Homo sapiens: one gene and its partners. The protein of the gene in region 1 purifies or fractionates together with the protein of each later gene. This does not show direct contact. Each region holds a gene or a part of one and is shown on either strand. Other genes may lie near its edges.

Region 1 (3,519 bases):
TAGTTTTGTCTTTAAATCAGCCGTTTTACATTGGAGTCCATTTACTGGGAAAGGAGACCTTGCATCCTTGCCTCCCACCCGTGGGAAGAAGCCCGGCCGACAGGGCTTTGAGACCGGACCCGAGTTTATTCCCAGAGACCCTCCCGCGGGTGGGCGAGCTCCGAGGTCTGGAGAAGAGGAGGCCCCGGCCCGCACCCTCTAGCACCTGTGTCCCCTTCGTCCCGGCCACAGATGCAGGTTCTCCCAAGAGGCGGGTCTGTACCCGCCCCGCGCCCCCAGCCCAGCGGGCCCGGCCTCCGCCCCTGCCCCGCACTCCCACCCCCACCCTCAGGAGAGCGCGGCCCTGCTCCCCACCCCGCGCGGTCTCCCCCCACCGCCTGCGAACCCCCATGCACGCGCGGCCCCGCCCCGCGCACTCACCAGGCCCGGCAGCCGCGCGGTCTTAGCGGCTCACGCGCTCGGGCCCAGGGGCGGGGACGTGGGGACCCGGGCGGCCGCTCAGCCGCGGCCGCGCGGTGAATGAGCCCGTTGTGCGGCCGCCGCGGCCCCAGCGACACCCCGCGCGGGGTCTACAAGGGCTGACGCGCCCCCGCGGCTTCCGTTCCCGGGCTGGGCGGTGGCTCGTCTGCGTCTCCGGCCCTGGGGGTGGGCTGCGCGCTCCATCTCGCCGGCCCAGTCCCCTCCCCAGCGTCGGTCTCTCAAGGCCCCTCCCAATGGGGGCCAGGCGGAGGGTGGGCCCTCGGGCCTGTGGACTGACCCCGGGGTTCCTGGGCCTGGGGGCGGGGATCCCTGTCCCGGGCTCCCCTCGCTGCGAGGCTGGCCCTGCCAGATGACACTCAGAGGCGCCTTGGGTGTCAGGCCAGGGACATCTCTGATGCTGGGGCTCCCCCCGCTAGGGTCAGGGGCTGCCGGGCTATCGCCTTGGGGTTCTGCAGAGAAAACCTGAAGCCCAGCTGGGTCTTCACTTTCCTCCAGGTCACCGTGCCCCGCTACTCCAACTCCGTGGGACTTTGGAATGCACCTTCTGGGCATTTAATTCTTATCCAAGTGCCTCTTAAGTTATACTTCTTTGCTACCAGTGTGTCCTTTGGATGGAGGGGAGGAGAGGTGGTAGGGGCCGGGTGGGGTGGACCCCAGGGACTCCTGCTGCTCCTGCTGGACACCCAGCCCGGGGTACAGGAGCAGGTGGGGACCAGCAGAGGCGGGGCGGAGCAGGAGCCCACACCCAAAGGCTGTAGACTCCTGCCAAGGCTCTGCCTTGATCTTGTACACCATGGGAGGACCAGAAGGGAGGCGTTGAGGTGTCCAGACCTTTGCTGTGGAGCTGGGGGTGCTGTGGCATGGGGAGACTGACAGACGGGGAGCTGTATAGGGCCAGATTCCGGTCCATGGTGGTAACCCCATCCCCCACCACTGCAGATGCGGCACAAAGCCAGCTGCCACAGGAGGTGCACTGCCCCACGGGCAGCTGTGCTCACCTGCGTGGCGTCCGCAGGAAGCCCTCAGACCCTGGCCAGCCTGGTCTCTGCTTCTCACTCCAGGCTCAAGGCTGGCTGCTATTCCATTCACCCCATTCCCTTTCCCTCAGGCCAGAAGCATCACTCACAACTCCAGACCCTTGCACACCAATCTCCTCACTCAGTTCACCCTCAGATGTCCAACTCCACATGGCCAAAACCGAGACCAGTCTCACTCCAAGCTCATCCACCCGCCTAGCTGCCCAAGCTGAAATCCACAGTTGCCCTGTACGACCCCCCGACCCCCCACCTCACCCCCCAGCTCACCTCAAACCTCATCAGTCCCTCTGCTCACAGCCTGCACAGCCACCACCCAGTCTGGGCACCATACCTCTCTGGGCAACCCCCATGGCCCCCAGCCAGTCTTCCAGCTCCCACCCTGACTCCAGTGAGCTGCCAGAGGGATCCTTGAAAAATGCTCTGGAAGCCAAGGTGGGCGGATCACGAGGTCAGGAAATGGAAACCATCCTGGCTAACATGGTGAAACTCCGTCTCTACTAAAAATACAAAAAAATTAGCCGGGCGTGGTGGCGGGCGCCTGTAGTCCCAGCTACTCAGGAGGCTGAGGCAGGAGAATGGTGTGAACCCGGGAGGGGGAGCTTGCAGTGAGCCGAGATCGCGCCACTGCACCCCAGGCTGGGCAACAGAGTGAGACTCTGTCTCAAAAAAAAAAAAAAGAAAAAAGAAAAATGCCCTGGCACTGCTCAGCTCAGAACCTTGAAAGGGATCCTTGTTTCGCTCTGGGTCAGGGTCCCATCCTCAAAGCAGTCACTTCCAGAGCCCCATGGAGCCTCATATCCCATGATATCCACCCTTATTCTGTCTCAGGCCCACCAGCTGCCTCCCTGCTGCCTGATTGTCATGTGTGCATTCCTGTTCCAGAGCCTTTGCACTGGCGATGCCATCTGCTGCCTGGATGTCTTCCTGCTGGCTGGTCCCGTTGCATGGTAGCCTTAGGTGTCTCCTCAGAGAGGTCCCTCGCTGACCATCAGGCTCCTCACTCCCTGTCGTATCCCCTTCACCAAAGATTCCCATTCCCTGACGACGCCTGTCCCCTCGGAATGCAGGCCTCGTGGGAATTCAGCCCATCCGCAAGTGCAGTGGCAGGGCGGCCCCCTTCCCCCTTGACGACGCCTGTCCCCTTGGAATGCAGGCCTCGTGGGAATTCAGCCCATCTGCAAGTGCAGTGGCAGGGCGGCCCCCTTCTCCCTTGAGGACGCCTGTCCCCTCGTAATGCAGGCCTCGTGGGAATTCAGCCCATCTGCAAGTGCAGTGGCAGGGCGGCCCCCTTCTCCCTTGAGGACGCCTGTCCCCTCGTAATGCAGGCCTCGTGGGAATTCAGCCCATCTGCAAGTGCAGTGGCAGGGCGGCCCCCTTCTCCCTTGAGGACGCCTGTCCCCTCGGAATGCAGGCCTCGTGGGAATTCAGCCCCATCTGCAAGTGCAGTGGCAGGGCGGCCCCCTTCTCCCTTGACGACGCCTGTCCCCTCGGAATGCAGGCCTCGTGGGAATTCAGCCCCATCGGCAAGTGCAGTGGCAGGGCGGCCCCCTTCACCCTTGACGACGCCTGTCCCCTCGGAATGCAGGCCTCATGGGAATTCAGCCCATCTGCAAGTGCAGTGGCAGGGTGGCCCCCTTCTCCCTTTCCTGTGCACTCATGTTGCCTCTTGGGGTGTGGGAGGGGAAATGGGGCACTCCTGGGCCTCCAGGAGGTGCAGAGAACCAGGGTGAGGTGTCCACCAGGTCCTGCCTGGCTCCTGACCCCTGGCCCCTGCTGCTCGCGACTGGCCTGCCTCGTGCCACTGAGCCTCAGAGCCATTCCGAACCCCCACCCCAAGTTTTCCATCTCTTGATGGTGTAGGGTTGGGGGGTCTCCATGTACAGATACTCTAGTTCATACCAGGCCTTCATAGGGTTATTTTCCAAGGGGAAGGGCCCCTCGGGAAGCCGGGATCGGAGTCCTGTGTGGCACCTTGCAGGCTCCCACATGCTCCGTTGTGGCC
Region 2 (3,519 bases), on another chromosome or scaffold:
CAGGCAGTGTCTCCATGTCACCTGTATGCTCAGGCAGAGTCAAGAAGGCAGGGAGCCCTTCATTTGCCAGTCTCTTCATATTGGATCTGTATTTGTTGTACTGTATGTGTCATTCGCTTAGTGTCTGGGTTTAAATCAGCAATTAGTGATTCATGTGGATTCAACAGGACACAAACAAGGAAAGCCCTTGGGGAGGTTTGGATGTGGGGTGGGGTGTGTGGCTAAGGCGGGAAAGAGGGCTGAGTGGCAGGGTGGGGCCCAGGGCAGGAGAAGTAACCATCAATGGGAAAACAAGGCAATGTGACATTTGTGCCTTTTGTTTCTTCTGGCTGCTCAAGTAATGTAAGGCTGCATGCTGGTCCCCCTGCTGTTCGCTCTCTGGGCCACTCTGTGGAGTGGAGCTCGGGCCCTGGCACCTGGCAGGTGCTGTCATTTTCCCTCCACCCTCATCTTCATGTGTAAACAGGTGCCATGGAGGAAAATGAGCATCAAGGTGGCTTTAAAGGGGCACAGTGGCAGACATCCAGATGCAGGCTGAAGTGGGAAGGTTTGGAACTGTAGGCATGCATGTGGATCTCTGCCTGATTTGGAGCCCCACTGGTGGAACCTCATCTTTCTCTTCACCTGATGGCTCTCAGTATGGCAGGAAGGAGGCCTGGCTACTACTTTACTAATCTGGGAGAGGTAGAAGGCGTTTGGGGAGGGAGCAAAACCCATGTTGGGGTCTTATTTCCTGCTTGTCTTCTGATGTGGTCTGGTTCATGTGTCAGCATTCTTGCTGCATAATGTGAATTAATGTGTAGTATGAATTTAAAACAGCGAAGAATCCCAAGGTTTTAAGCCCATATAGGTCACATGCCTGGAATAAAATTTTGTTTAAAAAAGTTGGATAAGGCTAAGTGCTCTGAAAGTGAGACCGATGCAGGTACCAGCCTCTAGAAATGGCAATTTTAGTTAGAAAACCCTGGACAGTATGTGAGGGGTATACAGGGTAAATCTCGGAGACGCTTTCATCTCCCTCAACATGACAGACCTGTGCTTTTCTGCACCTGTCCTTTGCCAGTGTCTGGGATTGGAATCAGATTCCTCTTTTCTGTCTGTTGGGATACTGATTCCTGCTTATGTCTTTGTCCTACCCTTTGTCTTTGTACCTACCCCCTTGACCTCTGTGTGTTGTTTCCTTCTGTCCTAACCCTAGGTGCCTCACCCAATAAGGGTTGTGGTGGCAGTGCATGGCTCTGCCACCACAACCCTTGGTTCCAATTACAAAGCCATTTAAGCCTGGCTCTGGTTGAACCATGAGGGTAGTAAAGTCTCTATTTGAGGATAGATGTGGCCAGAGGGGCAGAAGATTAGAGAGAGAATAGAGGCTGGTACAGTGGTAGGAAGGGAAGGGTGACTGGAAAAGTGCCTCTGTCTGGGAGCAGCCTGCATGAGTGACAGTGACATGGGAAGATGACAGCAATGTGGGAAAGAGAGCATAGGATTTGTGTCTGTAAGAACAGGAAGGAAATTCTCAGGAAAGATGAATATAAGCTTTAGACACATACAGCACATTTTGATTTTGTGTAGCCAGGAAGAGTTATATACCTCCCAGACCAGTGCTGATGTTGCAAACAAGATTAAATAGCTTTAAAAGTGTTAGCAATGAAAAATGTAGGAGATTGGGACATCTGAGAACCTGTAGATGGCAAATGATCATTTGTGTTCTGCTCCAGAGGGAGAGAAGTTCATTTGTAGAGTTTGGGAAGTCTCTTCTTTGAATACGGTAAGGCTGAGGAAGCCATCTCTTACTTCCCAGTTAGTTAGAAAAGGCTTCTGAAAGGGATTGAAAGAAACTTTGAAGTACTATGGGTGTGACCTCAGAGGCAGGGCTGGAGTGATCAAAGGCAGAGGAGAAAGAGGAGGCAGAGAAAAGTGAGATGGTTTGGAGCAATCAGGAGAAGGGTTCTGAAAGAAGGGGATGAGGATTGTGATTTATGGATGAACAAACACCACTGTCCTAATAGTTGTCCCAGAGGTAGTGCACTTCCCTTTCCTGGGGACCATTTGACAAGGGTGCAGGAGAAGGAAATTCTTGTCAGGAGGACTTGGCCTACTAGGATGCCTTTCAGCTGTGAGAATCATTGAGCTACCTCCAGGTACCCAGGGCTGTGTTAAGATGTTGCCATCTTCTACGGTTTTCATGGCAGCAAGACTGCTGGTACTTCCATAATGGCAGTAATACCAGCTCTCCTAACTCTAGCCCTTACTGTGACCCAACTATATCAATCAGTCTTCAAAACAACCCTGTAAGATAGATACCTTGCATTATCACATTTTTATAGATGGGGAGATTGAAGCTTAGGGAGGTTAAGTAACTTGCCTAAGCTGGGCATGGTGGCTCATGCTTGTAACCGCAGCACTTTGGGAGGCTGAGGCGGGTGGATCACTTGAGGTCAGGAGTTTGAGACCAGCCTGGCCAACATGGTGAAACACCGTCTGTACTAAAAATACAAAAATTAGCCGAGCATGGTGGCACATTCCTGTAATCCCAGCTACTCGGGAGGCTGAGGCAGGAGAATCGCTTGAACCCAGGAGGCAGAGGTTGCAGTGAGCCGAGATCGCGCCGTTGCACTCCAGCCTGGGCAATGAGCAAAACTCTGTCTCAAAAAAAAAAAAAGAGTCACTTGCCTAAGATAGATTGCTGACAGTGTTAGGGCTCCAAGCTCCTGCTGTCTTGCTCCATGTGCATGCTCTCTATTCCCAAGATGACTTCATGGTCCAAGATGACTCTTCTAGCCGCAGCCATCAGGAAGGAAGAAAAGGCTAGTGAAGGGTAGGACCTCTTAATGTAAGGATACTTCCTGGAAGTTATATACATCACTTCCACTAACATTCTCATTGGCTAGAACCTAGTCATGTGACCATATTTAGCTGCAAAGAAGGCTGGAAAATATGCTTATCCTGAGGGTCCATGTGTCCTGAGAAAAACTTGGGATTCTATGACTGTAGGGAAAGGAGAGAACAGATTTTGGGGGACAGCTGCCCATCTCTGCCATAGTCACAAAGCTAAAAAGTGGCAGAGTAGGGTTTTGAAGCCAGGACCATTTGGTTCCAAATCCTGTGTTCTTACATCTAATAAGCTATTCCGTTTGACTCTGAAGCCGAGCCTCTGGCTTCTAAGAAGGCTTGTTAGGAAGGCATGAGTTAGATGAACCAACGTTTGTTTCATAGGAAGCAACCTAAATCAGCATATAATTAAACACTACATTTTGTGGTTTTATCAGTGAGTATTAAAGTGTTTATAGAGTGCTTATGTGCCAGTCACTGTGCTAAACACTTTACATAGCATGACCTTCTGTATAAAATTCTTGAAGACCATCTGTCATGTTCATTACTGTAGTCCCAGAACTCAGCCTTGTGCCATGCAAAGTAAGCAGGTGTTCAGTTATTTTATTTTTTTTGAGATGGAGTCTCACACTGTTGCTCAGGCTGGAGTGCAGTGGCACGATCTTGGCTCACCGTAACCTCCGCCTG
Region 3 (3,519 bases), about 47 Mb from region 1:
CCACACTATGAAATGGTGGAGCTGGGATTCAAACTCTTGTTCCTAATCACTATACCATGTCTATTTATAACAAAAAGACACCATCAAATGAGGTAATGCATATAAAATGACAAACACTGAGCCAGATATGGAGTAAGTTTTCATTACAATGATTATAACTTTATGCCCTGAAGATGCACCAGACTCTACTGGGAATGTGACATGTTTTCTCAATTTTATTTTATAACAACTCTATGCTCTTAGCACCTCTAGTTCCTGGAGAAGGAAACTTAAGTTCTTAAAACCAGTAATTTGCCCAGGGAGATGGAGTTAGGAAGCCTTCTAAATGAAAATGGAGTTGGAAAGAGACCTGGATTTTTCTGCTATTTCTGTGAAAATCTAGTGGATGTATAGATAACTTTTGTACAAATAATTATTTGTAACATGATTGCTTTTCAATGTCAGACAAATGAGAACACAGATAAGCCTGAGCACAGATGAAGAGCTTCCAGAAAAATACACCCAGCGTCGCAGGCCGTGGCTCAGCCAATTGTCAAATAAGAAGCAAGTAAGTATCATTTTGACAGGCAAGAGGGGAATGGAGAAGGTTGTCTTTTTAGAGTCTTCATTCATGAGGTGCTGTTTGTTGCCCAGAATCTAGTATCCTGCTTGGCATAAAATAAGTGCTCAGTAATTTGTGAAGGAATGTTCTAGAAGAAAGTAAAAGGAAAAAGAAAAGACCAGTTAAAATAGGCTACTTATATTTAAAGGCAGAACTTGAAAATGGGCAATGAGTGGGAAAAAACATATTCTGGCTTCTGTCATTTTGAGGCTGAGATTAATTTTCACTTCAGTGAGAAACAGCATTCTTAGGAAGTATGGTAAACCCAAGCACAAACTGCCACCACATAAAAAGAAAAAGGCCATTTTTCTTCTTTTAAGGAGAAAAAAAATCCTTAAAACAAGGTAAAACTATTGAAGAGGAGTACATCATCTTTTGAAAATTTTGATATGAAAAAAAATCCAGTAAAATGCTGTCAAGAGAACTTGTGATCTCAAAAGTGTACAAAATGATGAGTGTATTGCTGGATCCTAAAGGAGTTTTATAGTTAGTCCTTTTCTACATTTATCTCATCCTGGCTTCTGCCTTGGTGTAGCTGGATAAGAAAAGTGAGGCAGAAGGCAAATATGCTTTGTCCCTATATTTTTTAGTACAAATTATTAAAATGATAGTAAAACAACTCACTTATTGGTTTTCACAGTCCAACACGGGCCGTGTGCAGCCGTCAAAACGAAAGCCACTGCCTCCCCTCCCACCCTCTGAGGTTGCTGAAGAGAAGATCCAAGTCAAGGCACTTTATGATTTTCTGCCCAGAGAACCCTGTAATTTAGCCTTAAGGAGAGCAGAAGAATACCTGATACTGGAGAAATACAATCCTCACTGGTGGAAGGCAAGAGACCGTTTGGGGTAAGACACTTACATGACTTAGTCAGTATCCAATTCTTCCAACACAAAGAAGACTACTTAGTGACTCAGGCTTATAACTCTTCCCTCTGCATGAAATGGAATCTGTCCCCTCTCCCCCAGGATGTGTGAGAGAATGAGAGAACAGTGATTTCAGGCAGAGTCTCAGAACCAGATACACCTGGCTTCACATCCTGATGCTGCCGCTTACTATTGTGTGTCCCCGGGCAAGTCACTTACCGTCTCTGAGTTTTTGTTTCTTTATTTGTACAATGGAAATAATAATTCTGACAATGTAGGTTCTTATTCTAATTTGTGCTTTCATTTGGGAATTTGTCAGTTTTTTCCTGTTAAGCTCTAAGGTAAGAACAGAAATAGTATTTTATTCACTTTTATGTTTCTAGAATGACTAGTTTTGAAAGCAAACATTGCAGTCGCTGCTGAATTAGATTAGAAAGAAAAAAGACCCTGGGATGCAGATAGGTTTCATTGTGCCAATTGCAACAGATGGTTAATGCCTGACTGGAGTCCTGAGTTGAGAAGAATTCTGAGGAATATCTGGACTTCCTGAGAGAGAAGGCTGGCATTGATTTCTGATATTTGCCAAGATTTGGAGATTTTAAGTATCTAAGTATTATAAGCATGTAAATTACATACCTCTCCAACTACATTTTCTCAATGATGTGGCTCTCTTAACAGTTCTCAACATGTGGTGGAGACTTTTCAGTGGAAAAAGAGGCATTAGTAGGTTCAGGACTGTGTAATTAGCCACACCTGCGGGTATACTATTGGCATGCCTCAGACTTAAAAATTGAATTTTTTATTTCACAGTAAGTGAATAGAGTTTTTAAAAATATATAATATGCAAACATTAATGTCAAAATTCTGCTTTGCCACTACCTCCAAACCCAAGTGTCTCCCCAAAAGTAAATACTATTATCCATTTTCAGATTATTTTCAGTATACTTACATGCACATATCAAAATATATGGTATTGTTTGTAGAATTCATTTACCTAAATCTTATCTTACTTTCTGCATGATTCTGCAACTTACTTTTATTTCTCAATAATATGTCTTGGAGATCTTTTTGTAATTTCAAATGTTGGTTAAGGTATAGGAAAAGTGAAACTTCTACCATGCTGATAGGTGTGTAAGTTGGTATATCCTCCTTTGAGGACAATTTGTTGCATATCCTGAAAGATGTACATATCCCGTGACTTAGCAATTCCCGTCTTTGCTATCTGTCTTTGAGAAATATTCTTCTGTACAAGAAGGCGTGTTCAAGGATTTCTTTACAGCGTTGCTTCTACTAGCAAAGTAGCTAAACTAGAATACCTATGCTATGGAATACTCCTCAGCAATTGAAAAGAATGAAGTCGATGTCTTTGTAATTGCTGTGTTTTTAACATAATCACTATGATATCAGATGATCATTTAAGTGCCCCTTTTTCTCTCTGAAAAGATTGTGGGGTCATAAAACCTCTTAAACTACTCACATTACAAGTTGGCATCTTAATACATTCCTTGTACAGAGATTTTTGTTGAGTTAGAAATAAAAAAACTTTTTTTTCTCCTTTTAACAATTTAATCAGTAAAATGAATTTGATTTCCCCCCTACATCCTTGAGGTTTTAAAAGGATTGTTGCCATGATAATGCCACAAACATGCCAAGCATTTTGATTTTTGCTTTTTCTTTTGTTGTAGGAATGAAGGCTTAATCCCAAGCAACTATGTGACTGAAAACAAAATAACTAATTTAGAAATATATGAGTAAGTCTTCTCCAAAATATAACCTATGAAAATCAGGGACATTTTGGCAGCTTGTAAGTATAGATACTGTTTTGGGTCTGTAGAAGGAAAAAAAAGTAACACATTTGACAGCGTTAATAATAAAGAGACGTTTGATCCTTATCATGGTTGATTCAGAAACTTCTTTTCCTTATACTTATTTTTGTTCTGTTTTGTATAGCCACTTTTTCTGTTTTAACAGTGACAGCCTGAACCCAAACACTCATCTGGCACTTATTTTACTATATATCTTAACTGGAAAATTTACTTTAAAAAATGACATTA
Region 4 (3,519 bases), on another chromosome or scaffold:
ACAGATCCCATTGCTACTTAGTGGTAGAGCAGAAACTAGACTCCAGGGATGCTTCATCTCTGTACCAGGCTTCTGCCTATGAGAGACTGTTTCTGGATTCTTAGCCCTGGAACTCCTTAACAAGAATTCCAGGCTCTTGTTACTGAAAATGACCAGCTATTTTCTGAAGAGTCCATGAGAAAATGAGCTTGAATATGTTTAGGTTATTCCTTTGATTCAACACATGCATATTGACAACATAACTTGCTTGGCTCTGTGAAGAACATGCTGACCTGTGAAAATATTCCCACATTCAAGGAAGTCATGACTTGGTAGGGAAGGTACCAAATGTTCAAGTCACTAGAATAAAAAAAGTAGTGTCTGATAAGTAAGAAGTTTGAAGGTGTACACAGTATAGTCTTGAGAACTCAGAGAAGGAATAGGTGATTTCCAGCTGGTACAATCTGGGAAGGGTCAACACCAAATGGGTCTCTTAACCTGGACCTTAGAGGAAGAGTGGGATTTTGGTGGGCAAAAAGATTGGAAATTGAATTCCAGGAAAAGAAGTAACCAGAAAAATGGCATGAAGATGACAAAGGGGTGCTAAGGAAATGGCAAGAAGTCTAGATTGATTGCAACATAGTTTGCCTGTAAGGAAGAAGGATAAGATGGTTATTGAAAGACTACTGAGCAATCACTACTGAATGAGTATGAACAAGTAATTTAACCTTTTTATGCCTCAGTGTCCTTACCTGTAAAATGGGCATGGTAATAATGTATATCTCATACAGTTATAATGAGAAATAAAATAGTTTTAAAAATATAACGATATATAGGCAGGGCATGGTGGCTCACGCCTGTAATCCCAGCACTTTGGGAGGGTGAGGTGTGTGGATCACCTGAGGTCAGGAGTTCAAGACCAGCCTGGCCAACATGGTGAAACCCCCTCTCTATTTAAAAAAAATACAAAAATTGGCTGAGCATGGTGGCAGGTGCCTGTAATCCCAGCTACTCAGGAGGCTGAGGCAGGAGAATCATTTGAACCCAGGAGGTGGAGGTTGCAGTGCCAAAATTGTGCCATTATACTCCAGCCTAGGCAACGGGCAAAACTCCGTCTCAAAAAAATATATATAATGATATATATAAATAAATAAATATATATATAAAATAAAGATGTATATAAAGATATATATGGGCTGGGCGCGGTGGCTCACGCCTGTAATCCCAGCACTTTGGGAGGCTGAGGCAGGTGGATCACGAGGTCAGGAGGTCGAGACTATCCTGGCTAATACGGCGAAACCCTGTCTCTACTAAAAATACAAAAAAATAATTAGCCGGGTGTGGTGGCGGGCGCCTGTAGTCCCAGCTACTTGGGAGGCTGAGGCAGGAGAATGGCTTGAACCTGGGAGGTGGAACTGGCAGTGAGCCGAGATCGCGCCACTGCACTCCAGCCTCGGCGACAGAGTGAGACTCCGTCTCAAAAAAAAAGATATATATGATGCCATGAACAGTGTACTTTATAAATGCCACTCAAGCATAACTTATTGTTATAATTAGTAGTATTTTTATTAGATTATTATTCCCTGCCTAGTATGAACAAGGAAAATAACTAGAAGAGGACTTTGCTATCAGACTAATTATGGACTACAATTGGGGTGCATGTTAGGACAATTTTAATAAGATTTTTCAGCTGTGAGTCTTCAGGTGACTGATTAAGAATTTTTGTTGCCTCTTAAGGGAACTTATCGGTGGCCTCGCCTACACAGCTGTGACAGTTGTGCTATGACATGTGTGTTTCCATTGCATCATAAGCTGATTACAAAACACATGTGATTCCCAAGTGAAAGGTGCGACGAATGAAGATAGTAAACAAGAGAGGAATCACACAAATGGCAATTTGTTAGCAAGTAGACCATGCTTGTGTAAGCCTGCATTTTGGTTCATGTTGGCTGATTTACATTTCATCCTGGATAATTTTTACCTGGTGCTTTGATATAACGTACTGTGGAGATAAATCTTGTGTAAGACAAACTAAATAAACACTTTGAGAACCGAAGACCTAAGTAAAAATTAACATTTGGTATCCACTCACTAATTCGTTTTCTAGATAGCCCCCTTAGCTTCCCTTCATTTAGTATAAGACATTGAATCTAATAACTTTTTATAATTATCCATTAGTTACATTTGCACAATGAGTAGTTATGCATATCAGAAAGGATAGCCTGAATAAAACAATATCATTACTATTGTGGAAGTGACATACCTTTGGTGACCAGATCTCTGGACTGCACTGTTAGCTTCCCTAGTGGATTGTTAATTGTTCTAATTGCCTTAGAACCTTACCAAAAATGGTTTCATTTGACTGTGTAATTTCCAAGGTCTCCATGAACCTTAGGTTTTATTATCCCAAGTACTTCTGTTTAATGTTCCAACATTTATTGTTATATCTGAGAATTTTTAAAGAAGAAAATTTAGCCTGGGCTCGGCGCAGTGGCTCACCCCTGCAATCCTAACAATTTGGGAGGCTGAAGCTGAAGGATCGCTTGAGCCTAGGTGTTTGAGACCAGCCTGGGCAACATAGTGAAACCCTGTCTCTACAAAAAAGAAAAAAAGTTAGCTGGGCATGGTGGTGTCCACTTGTGGTCTCAGATACTTGGGAGGCTGAGATGAGAGGATTCCTTGAGCCCAGGAGGTTGAGGCTGCAGCGAGCCATGATTACACCACTGCACTTTTGCCTGGGTGACAGAGGCCCCGTCTCCACACACACACTCACACAAATTTAGGCTTGAAAAGAATTATCCAAAACCATAAACATCCATCTTTAAAAACAATAACAGTCTATTGTCTAATATGCATGTAGCATATCTGTGTTTTGGTGTGGGTTCAATGATATGGCTATGGATATGCATGACAGCCAAAATTAACTAGTCTTATGATTCACATCCACTCTCATTCATTAATGACCAGTGGTACTTAGGCTTTCCTTATCAATAAATGGAATTTTAAAAATTTAATACTAAGGAGACAATAGTCTTAGGTCAATGTGCTTAGTTTCTGGCCACTATAACTAGAACCATATGCAACATGGAAATTTTAGCTCAGGAGAGGGGGTTAACAGCCACTTTTTAATTTCTGTTGTAAGGATTGATGTGGGATCTCTTTCCCTAGACTTTGGTTCCAAGCTTTTTGGAAATGAGCTGGAGAACATGGAATATAACTCAACTATCCCACTGAAAGGCTTTTCAAGTTTAAGCAAGGAACACCCAGTTGAAACCAGACTGGAATTTAAGGGATTTGGACCAAACCTCTGCAGCACTTATAACCAATTAAAATGTTCATAAGTGTGATTCAAAAAGGGAGAATTTTGACTTTCCAAAAAACTTGAGTTAAGAGTTATTCATTATAAAGGAAAGTTTATAAGTTTTTATAAATCAAGGTTAGAGTCGTACTTAGAAGTTTTATAATACGTATATTTCCAAATACTAGCAAATGCTAGAATATGATTAAACTTATTTAGATATATCCGATTATTATAAAATA
Region 5 (3,519 bases), on another chromosome or scaffold:
TTTCAGATCACAAGGGTAAACCCATTTTTACTTTTGCTATATGTGGCTAAAATGCTGTCCTGAAATGTTAACAGTCTCTTTCTGACAGTACTTTGTTAATTTCTGATCAACTTTTCATGATAAACATGCATCTATTATGATTGGGAAGTTGTTCATAGGAAGTGAAAGCTTGAAATGCAAGAGATTTTTAAAGTGAATATATTTTGGTAAAAGAAACTGCAGTTCACTGTTTTTTTATATTTATTTATCATGTTAGATGTAGGCAATTTAGCTTTTTTTTTTCCATTTTAATGTTATGTACATTTTGGTTTGTCCATTGGTATTTTGTGTTGGTACTTTGGGATAAATTAATCACTAGAGATATGTACATTTTTACTGATTTCTTCATTTTCCTATGACCTTATCAAACTATATATAAATTATATAACAATTACAGATATGAATTGCTGATATCATTGTAACTTCATTTTTACTCTATGAAAACTAGCTAATCCAGGCGTGGTGGCTTGCACCTATAATCCCATCACTTTGGTAGACCGAGATAGGAGGATCACTTGAGCCCAGGAGTTCAAGATAGCCTGAGCAACATTGCAAGACCCCATCTCTACAAAAATTTAAAAATTAGCCAGGTTTGGGAGTATGCGCCTGTAGTCTCAGCTACTTGGGACACTGCGGCTGCAGTGAGCTATGATCGCAAGACTGCACTCTAGCCTGGGCAACAGAGTAAGACCCTGTCTCTTAAAAAAAAAAGAAAAGAAAGAAAGAAGCTAGCTATTTTGAAATGTAATTTTCAAAATTTACATGCAGAACTAACTGGTCAGGTTTTTCAGTCTTAAGACATTTTGATGAGTTGAGGGTTATGTAAGTCATTACTATGAAAACATAAAGTAATTGTGCCATAATTACATAAAAATCTTTGTGCCTTTTCTTCATAGGCATGCATTCCTCAGCAGCAACTGAGCTGTTTGCTACTGGACCTTTGCCAAGCACTGGAACACTTCCACCATCTCTCTCTGCTTATCAGCATCCCACCACCTTCAGCAATAGAAACTTTGCTACCACTTCACCTTTGGTGCTTCAGGATTCAACTTTTAACACTACATCAAATGGAATTTTAAGTCATCATGACCCTTTGCTACAAATCAAGACTTCCCAGGGAACTGTTCCAACTGCTTTGGCATTTGAGCGCCTGGGCAGTTCTGTATTAAGTAACAGCATACCACCTCAGTCTTCAACATACCGCTCAGCTCAAGAGTCTGCACCCCATCTTTTACAACCTCAATTTAGTTTGTTGCCTTCAGCACTTGGGGGATCCCAGCAGACTCCTCAAGCCTACAGTTCAACTCTCTTTACTAGTTCTACTGCTTCCATTGAAAGAGCTCTTCTTCGAGAATGTAGTGTTATTAAACACCATCAGCGGCCTTCAGGTACCCAGTCAATTCAGGCACAACTGACTGGTTCACAGCACTCCTTACATAGTTATCTATCAAATTCAAGTGTAGTTAATTTTCAGGAAACAACCAGGCAGTCATCTTTATCCTGTAGCCCAATTGGAGATTCCACTCAGGTGAGCAACGGAGGATTACAACAGAAGACCTCCCAGGTCTCAGTGGAACTTGCTCAGTCTTACTCATCTGCGATTCCATCATCAGGGTATCCTCCTTCTACTACAAAAATAAAAAGCTGTTCTACAGAACAACCACTGACATCAACCAAGACCCCTAAACCTCAAAGTATAATTCCTCCTGTGCAAACACTAAGCTATTCCAAACCTTTACATAATCAGAGTTCTGTAATATCGGGCCAAGCACAAATTTATTCTACAGCGCAGCTACCAAGCCTTTTATCAGTTAGTCAGTCCCAAAATTACGGTTTAGTACAGCCACATAATGTGCCATCTATTGTTCATTCACAGGTTTATAGGTCCAGCAAGGTTGAGAAATTGCCACCCTTGTATAAAACATTGACTTTTTCTGGGTCATCTCAGACTGTAACTCCTGAAAATCAGACGCTTAATTATTCATCTAATCAGCAAGAGGTATTGTCTTCAGTTACAAATGAGAATTACCCTGCTCAAACAAGAGATCTGTCTTCAGTAAGTCAGTCTCAAAGTTACTCATCTGGTCACTCTCAGGGTTTATCACCAGTTAGCCAGACACAGGTTAGCTATTCATCTCAATCACAAGTTTTGTCAGTTGTTAGTCTTTCAGAAAGCTATGCTTCAGGGGAGTCCCTAACATTAACAGCCCCTTCTCTTTCTTATTCTTCTGCCTCTCGGGCTCAGAATTTGCCAGACTCTAGCCCGACCCAGAATTATATTTCTATGCATTCTTCCCAAAATGTTCAGACTCAAGAGTCATCATCTCCCCAGTCCCAGAAGTTTTTGCCTGCTGTCCAGTCATCATCTTTTGCATCCTCTACTCATTGTCAGACATTACAAAATAACATAACTTCCCCTGACCCAAAGTCTTATGCTGAAAGAAAGCTTGACTCAGATGTGTATCCATCTTCAAAGCAAGAAGATGGTTTTCCAATGCAAGAGTTACAGGTGTTGCAGCCACAAGCATCTCTTGAGTCATCAACCCAAAGGCTATCTGATGGAGAAATTAATGCTCAAGAATCAACTTATAAGGTGTCAAAGGCAGATGACAGATATTCTCAGAGTGTAATCAGAAGTAATTCCCGTCTTGAAGATCAAGTTATTGGGGTTGCTCTGCAAGCATCAAAAAAAGAAGAAAGTGTTGTTGGTTCAGTGACACAACTTAACCAACAAATTGGCCAAGTCAATAATGCAGCTACCCTTGATCTTAAGAACTCAACTAATTTAATACAGACTCCACAAATAAGGTTGAATACTAAAGACTTAAAGCAGCAACATCCTCTCATACTTAAGGTGCATGAGTCCAAGGTCCAGGAACAGCACGATCAAATAATTAATGCTTCATCTCAGATTCAAATTCCAAATCATGCTTTAGGGCATGGCCATCAGGCATCTCTTCCTAATACACAGGTCCTTTTAGATTCTGCCTGTGATTTACAAATTCTTCAGCAGTCAATACTGCAGGCAGGTTTAGGTCAAGTAAAGGCATCTTTACAAGCACAGCGTGTTCAAAGCCCTCAACAAATAGTACATCCCTTCCTTCAGATGGAAGGTCATGTTATTCAAAGCAATGGTGATCATTCTCAGCAGCAACTCCATCCTCAAAATTCTGAAGTTATGAAAATGGACCTCTCTGAGTCTTCAAAACCATTACAACAACATCTAACAACAAAGGGCCATTTTAGTGAAACAAATCAACATGATTCAAAGAATCAGTTTGTTTCTCTTGGATCGATGTGTTTCCCAGAGGCAGTGCTTCTTAGTGATGAAAGAAATATTTTATCAAATGTAGATGATATCTTAGCAGCTACAGCAGCAGCTTGTGGAGTTACACCTACTGATTTTTCCAAGTCAACTTCAAATGAAACCATGCAGGCTGTTGAAGATGGTGATTCTAAATCTCATTTTCAGCAGTCATT

Evidence for each region.
Region 2: the proteins of IDUA (region 1) and IGSF3 fractionate together in Homo sapiens (co-fractionation; one large-scale study listed by BioGRID). This does not show direct contact.
Region 3: the proteins of IDUA (region 1) and TXK fractionate together in Homo sapiens (co-fractionation; one large-scale study listed by BioGRID). This does not show direct contact.
Region 4: the proteins of IDUA (region 1) and ROBO2 fractionate together in Homo sapiens (co-fractionation; one large-scale study listed by BioGRID). This does not show direct contact.
Region 5: the proteins of IDUA (region 1) and QSER1 fractionate together in Homo sapiens (co-fractionation; one large-scale study listed by BioGRID). This does not show direct contact.

The regions. Positions count from the first base shown.
Region 1 is NC_000004.12:997,025-1,000,543, forward strand, and holds part of IDUA (alpha-L-iduronidase isoform a precursor), read left to right. Parts: intron 1-1,340; coding exon of another isoform or gene 1,341-1,965; intron 1,966-2,399; coding exon of another isoform or gene 2,400-2,731; exon of another isoform or gene 2,732-3,040; intron 3,041-3,519. Other genes in the region: uncharacterized protein LOC124900646, read left to right, coding at 1,341-1,965, 2,400-2,731.
Region 2 is NC_000001.11:116,661,220-116,664,738, reverse strand, and holds part of IGSF3 (immunoglobulin superfamily member 3 isoform 2 precursor), read left to right. Parts: intron 1-3,519.
Region 3 is NC_000004.12:48,110,235-48,113,753, reverse strand, and holds part of TXK (tyrosine-protein kinase TXK), read left to right. Parts: exon of another isoform or gene 1-12; coding exon of another isoform or gene 13-92; intron 93-444; coding exon 445-547; intron 548-1,241; coding exon 1,242-1,447; intron 1,448-3,150; coding exon 3,151-3,216; intron 3,217-3,224; exon of another isoform or gene 3,225-3,519. UniProt on the Homo sapiens protein: Non-receptor tyrosine kinase that plays a redundant role with ITK in regulation of the adaptive immune response. Regulates the development, function and differentiation of conventional T-cells and nonconventional NKT-cells.
Region 4 is NC_000003.12:77,046,589-77,050,107, forward strand, and holds part of ROBO2 (roundabout homolog 2 isoform 23 precursor), read left to right. Parts: intron 1-3,519. UniProt on the Homo sapiens protein: Receptor for SLIT2, and probably SLIT1, which are thought to act as molecular guidance cue in cellular migration, including axonal navigation at the ventral midline of the neural tube and projection of axons to different regions during neuronal development.
Region 5 is NC_000011.10:32,930,808-32,934,326, forward strand, and holds part of QSER1 (glutamine and serine-rich protein 1), read left to right. Parts: intron 1-935; coding exon 936-3,519. UniProt on the Homo sapiens protein: Plays an essential role in the protection and maintenance of transcriptional and developmental programs.